Linked DNA regions of Homo sapiens. The protein of the gene in region 1 purifies or fractionates together with the protein of each later gene. This does not show direct contact. Each region holds a gene or a part of one and is shown on either strand. Other genes may lie near its edges.

What was found. The genes of interacting proteins can lie anywhere in the genome.
Region 2: the proteins of KRCC1 (region 1) and GTF2IRD1 purify together in Homo sapiens (affinity purification with mass spectrometry; one large-scale study listed by BioGRID and IntAct). This does not show direct contact.

The regions. Positions count from the first base shown.
Region 1 is NC_000002.12:88,026,705-88,029,244, forward strand, and holds the end of KRCC1 (lysine-rich coiled-coil protein 1), read right to left. Parts: intron 1,882-2,540; 5' UTR 1,860-1,881; coding exon 1,080-1,859; 3' UTR 501-1,079; downstream 1-500.
Region 2 is NC_000007.14:74,460,406-74,463,905, forward strand, and holds part of GTF2IRD1 (general transcription factor II-I repeat domain-containing protein 1), read left to right. Parts: intron 1-3,500. UniProt on the Homo sapiens protein: May be a transcription regulator involved in cell-cycle progression and skeletal muscle differentiation. May repress GTF2I transcriptional functions, by preventing its nuclear residency, or by inhibiting its transcriptional activation.

The sequences.
Region 1 (2,540 bases):
GGGGGATGCACATCATCAAGAAATAACCATAAAAATGGGCAACCAGCAGCCCTCTGGGCTGCTCTGTCTGTGGAGTAGCCATTCTTCTATTCCTTTACTTTCCTAATAAACTTGCTTTCACTTTATTCTATGGACCTGCCCTGAATTCTTTCTTGCGTGAGATCCAAGAACCCTCTCTTGGGGTCTAGATTCGGACCCCTTTTCCTATAACATCATTCTGGCGACCAGTGAAGGGACTATAGTGAGGAAACCCCCGACCCAAAGGCTAACTTTGGGTAAGTGGTGGGGTCCTGTAACAGTCAGTCATAGATTTCTACCTTAAAAACCAGGTTCAAATGTGAGCAAGCAAGGTATGATAGATAAGGAATTTTTACAGCTTCAAAGTGTGACCTACCCAAAAGATCTTGCCTGTTAAGTATGATGAACTGCCAAGTTATTCTCTCCTCCTCCCAAGAGAAAAATCATTGTTAAATAGGAACAGACTGACACACAACAACATGTAGAAATTAGAATACTTTATTATAAATATTTTCAGAATATAAACTGATTTTGTATCAAGACTCTTTGAAACTTTAGAAACTTTATGTAACCTAAGATTATAATATATTTCATTTTCCACTTTCCAGCCTAGAAAATACACTGCAAGTTAGATCTAATAAAGGAGAAAAAAATTGCTTCACAGAGAAAAACCAATGAACATAAAATACCCAACTCAAAACTATAACAAACCCAATCAAGAAACAGATTGTGCAAAGGTCATTAATCCTCCAATTTAAAATAAATAACCTCCCAACAGAAAATATTTCCACCATCAAAGCAATTTGATGAATAAAAGCAGAGTCACTTTCATTAAAGGAAATTACACTATATGTTCAAAAAATGTAATAATGCTTTTAGAAAATGAGGAAAAGCAATTTCTGTGTTGGAGAGCAAGCATGCTAAACACTTTGTTTACTAGGCCTTTGTTAGAAGTTAAAGAACCTATTCACATAAGAAAAGTGGTATGAACACGGATATCATAAAACCAAGCTCTCACCTATTTTTTCAATTTAACTTTGGGAGAACCAACTTTGAAAGCTTCAAAATCCAAGAATAGACTGGTCCCAAAGCATTTCCTCCTCTGTCCTTTCTTGGCCTTGTTCCTTTTTCTTTTTTGTACGCTTACGTTCCTCTTTCTTAGAGACTACATCTCGGCTTTTTTTCTCCTTTCGATTCTTAAGCTTTTCTGTACTGACATGTACGGTTTCTATTTCCACCTCTGTTTTCTTTCTTTGGATGCTCTTGTGTTTGTCTAAGTCAATTTCCTCGCAGCTTTTTTTTCTCTTATGCTTAGACCGCTCCTCCTCTGATTTTTCTCTGCCTTCCTCTGGGTGCCTTTTCCTCTTCTGATGTATCTGTTTGTGACTGGCTTGATGAGTACTGGTACTGTTATCTGAGGAGAAGTGCTTGTAAACTCTATGTTCTACACCATGTGAGCCACAAATATATTCTTGTTGATTAAAGTTCAGGGGTACTGGTTTTTCTGAGAAACAGTCCCTCGTGAACTGACAGTAGCTCAGAGAGTCTAGTCTCAATCTGCTGTCATGGGCTGGTAACCACTGAGGCAACCGATTTTCCACTGTTTGTGGAATATTGCATGATCTTGGGTAGGTCTGGATGGTTTCAGATGGGAGTCTCTGGTCAAACATTCTATACGTGGGTCTGGAATTAACCTCTCCTTTGTACCCACAGGTTTCCAAATAGTCCCCTTTCATCTTTCTGAAACAAGTCTTTGGCTCTAAGCCTCTGGCTTTCTGTACTTTAATATAATCTTCAAGTTCATCTTGAAAAGAGTCATATGTCTTCTTTGAATGCTTCATTAGGTTGACAAAACGGGATTTTCTGCAAAAAAGGGAGAAAATTCTTACCAGATCATCTTGTCCTGAGCATTTCCTTTGCTCTTTTTTTTTTTTTTTTTTTTCTTGAGATGGCGTCTCGCCCTGTCGCCCAGACTAGAGTGCAGTGGGGTTGCTCTTGGGTCACTGCAACCTCTGCCTCTTGGGTTCAAGTGATTCTCCTGCCTCAGCCTCCCGAGTAGCTGGGATTACAGGTGTGTGCCACCACGCCCAGCTAATTTTTGTATTTTTAGTAGAGATGGGGTATCACCATGTTGACCAGGCTGGTCTCAAACTCCTGGCCACAAGTGATCCATCCACCTCAGCCTCCCAAAGTGCCAGGATTACAGGCATGAGCCACTGCACCTGGCCTCCTTTGCTCTTAAAAAGAGCTTTGAAAAACAAAGCAGCTCAAACAAATTACAACCTATTTCAGCATAAAAGCTGAGTATCTTGACATTATATGCCAAAGGGTAGCATCAGGATGGTCAGATACCTCCCAGGTCACGTACCAGTAACTTTACCCTTCTCAGAAGTGAGACGAAGAGGGCAGAAAGGAACCGATACACATGTTGCTGTCATAGGGCTAAAATGTGAGATAAGCAGGGATGTGTGGATAGGAACCACACAACCACGGTGGGTGGCTGATATTAATGTTCAATTAAT
Region 2 (3,500 bases), on another chromosome or scaffold:
ATTAAAAAAAAATTTTTTTTTTTTAGAGATGGGGTCTTGCGATGTTGCCCAGGCTGGTCTCAAGCTCCTGGCCTCAAGCGATCCTCCCACCTCAGCTTCCCAAAGTGCTGGGATTACAGGCAGTATCCTTCTAATGTCCTTGGTCGGGCCTCCTCCAGCCTGTGGCTCGAGGGTCTAGATCTCCTACTGGCCTGGGTGGCATGGAGGGTGTAGTCTAGGTGGCCTGAGGGGTGCCCAGGGATCCCCAGTTTGGGAAGTCCTTGTCTTCAGGGATTTCTGGCCAATGTGGTCCGTATATTTAGAGATGCTGGGAGGAGGGGGTGGGAAATTGCTGGAAACACCCTATTATACACCAAGTAAGATTTTCATGTAGGATTGGCAAGGCCTGAGTGCTGGGAAAGTGTCTGCAATGGCTACCTTTCAAAGCTGGGAGACCCCGCCACGGGGGCGGTTGTGGACTTGAGGGGCTGACCCCACAGCACGGAGGCTGCTGGGAATTCCTGCACCTTTGCCATGCTGCCACCTGAGGCAGGTTCCCAGCACCTGAGCTGCAGCCTCTGGAGTGGGGGAAATGGGGGGAAAGTAAGGGGCCGGGGTCATGGGGTCCACGTCCACCTTCCGCCCGCCTGGGCAGTTTTCTTGGATGTAAAAGGGAGATGGCTCTCCCCAACCTGCCTGGGTCCCAGTGTGGTGCTGTAGTCCAAGGGACTTGGTGTGACCCCGTGGGGATGCCACAGCATGGGTGTGTGGGACCCCCGGGGGCAGGTCTGTGGTGGAGACAGGGTGGGAGGGCCTGGCTTGAGGGCTTGCGGTCCTGGGCACTTGAGGATGCAGAAGAGGCTGCATGGTTGGGGAGGGTAGGTAAGCAGGGGGCAGCTTAGCCCTTTCCCCTCCTGTTCCCTGTGACAGAGGGGAGACCCTCCAGGCTGTTTGTGTCTTAGATGGTTGGCCGAGGGTAGGCCTCTTTGCTGGCTGGGGTCTAGCAGGGTCTCAAGGTGCATTTTCTGGCTACTGGCAGAACCACCATCAAAGCAAGTCCGTATCTTTTCGTCTATCCATCTGTTGTTACGCCAGCCAGTGAGGACCTTGCAGAGGCGTCAGGCCTGAGGGAGTCTCATTAGGTCCTGGTCCCCAGCCCCCGGCTGGCACATGAGAAGGGCCCACTTTATATTTTATTTTATTTATTTATTTAAGATGGAGTCTCACTCTGTCACCCAGGCTGGAGTGCAGTGGCGCGATCTCGGCTCGCTGCAACCTCTGCCTCCCGGGTTCAAGCAATTCTCTTGCCTCAGCCTCCTGAGTAGCTGGGATTATGGGTGCATGCCACCTCGCCCAGCCAATTTTTGTATTTTTAGTAGAGATGGGGTTTTGCCATCTTAGCCAGGCTGGTTTTGAACTCCTGATCTCAAGTGATCTGTCCACCTTGACTTCCCGGAGTGCTGGGATTACAGGCGTGAGCCACTGTGTCCGGCCCCACTTTATATTTTATTAAAAATATCGTTGAGGAGTGAAGGCTATGCTATACCAGGAACTTGCCTGGCTCACACCCTTATGTCGTCCAACCCCCGTCAAGACATAGAACAGCGCTTTGGGAGGCTGAGGCGGGAGGATGGCTTGAGGCCAGGAGTTTGAGACTAGCCTAGACAACATAGTGAAACCTCCATCTCTACAAGAAGTACAAAAATTAGCCAGGCGAGGTGGCTCATGCCTGTAGCCCCAGCTACTCAGGAGGCTGCGGCGGGAGGATCACTTGAGGCCAAGAATTTGAGACCAGCCTGGGCAACATAGCAAGACCCCGTCTCTTAAAAAAAAAATTAGCCGGGTGTGGTGATGTGTGCCTGTAGCCCCAGCTACTTGGGAGGCTAAGGCAGGAGGATTGCTTGACCCCAGGAGTTAGAACAATCCTGTAACCCCTAAAAGTTTTTGAAGCCCGTTTGTTCATCCTTGTCTCTTGTCCTGACCCCAGCAACCACTGATCTGTCTTCTGTATATGGTTTTCCATTTGTACAATGTCACATAAATGGAATCCTACAGTCCACAGCCTCTGAATCTGGCTTCACACAGCATAATGCATTTACGGCATTGCTGGGTACACGGGTAGCTGGTCCCTTCTGGTCCCTGAGTAGTGTTCCATGGTGTGGATATGCCACATACCTCTAGCCACTCTCCTCTCTAGGGAAATCTAGCAAACCGGCTTGGCCGGCCCTGCATCAGCTCGGGACCCCCCAGAAGAAGGTGGTTCCTCTTTCTCATTTTCACAAAGGCACCATCTGGCTGGCGGGGGGCCTGTGGCCTGCACCCCATCACTACCCACCCCCCACATCAAGAGCTGACCCCAAGCCGGGGGAGCTGCTCATCTCCGCCCTCAGAGCTGGAATTTCATCTTCTGTTTCTGGTGACTCATACTGTGAGCCCCGCGATGAAATTACACCTGCCTGCCGCTGCCCTCCGGGCCTCTGGCCCCATGCGATCCTCCCGCCGCCATCCAGGTGGGCTCTGGAGTAATTGAGGCTATGGGGCCAGGACAGCTGGAGGTTGAGGGCGGTGCCAGGGAGGGGAGCTGTCTGTGCCCTGGGGTGTCTTGCCCATCATCTTATGTATCCCCACCCTGTGGGAGTCTGGGGTTCCTGGTGGTGCGTCTCTGGTCTTCACTCCTGCAGCTGTTTTGCTTGGGGTAGAAGTTTCATGTTTGCCTGAAATAAGAGCAGGACTTCTGAGGGTAGGGAAGGAAGGTGGTGAAGCCACTGTTGCAGGCAGGAGCAGGAGTTAGGATCAAACGGAACAGGGCTGGCCGAGTGATGTCACATCTCTGGGCTTTGGTTTGTTCATCTGTTCTTATTATTATTTTGAGACAGGGTCTCGTTCTGTCACCCAGGCTGGAGTGCAGTGGTGCAATCATAGCTTGCTGCAGTCTTGAACTCCTAGGCTCAAGTGATTCTCCCACTTCAGCCTCCTAAGTAGCTGGGCTTGGAGGCACTTGCCACTACACCCAGCTAATTTTTTTATTTTGTAGAGATGGGGGTCTCGCCATGTCGCCCAGGCTGGTCTTGAACTCCTGTGTTCAAGTGATCCCACAACCTCAGCTTCCCAAGTGCTGGGATTAGAGGGGTGAGCCACTGCGTCCTGCCTGTTCATCTTTAAGTGGGAGAACAGAACACTAGGTTTGCAGGGCTGTGAGACTCAGCTGAGGGTAATGTGAGTGTGTGGATTACCACAGAGCCCTGGAGGGCCCCAGGGGCCACCAAGGAGCGGGTGGTGGGGACATGTGAGGCTCAAGCCTCCTGTGCCCCTTTGGGCCAGAGTAGGACCACTGTTGTTTTTTGTTTTTTTTTTTTTGAGACAGAGTCTCACTCTGTCGCCCAGGCTGGAGTGCAGTGGCGTGATCACGGCTCACTACAACCTCCGCCTCCCGGGTTCAGTTGATTCTCCTGCCTCAGCTTCTCGAGTAGCTGGGATCACAGGTGCGTGCCACCACACCCGACTAATTTTTGTATTTTTAG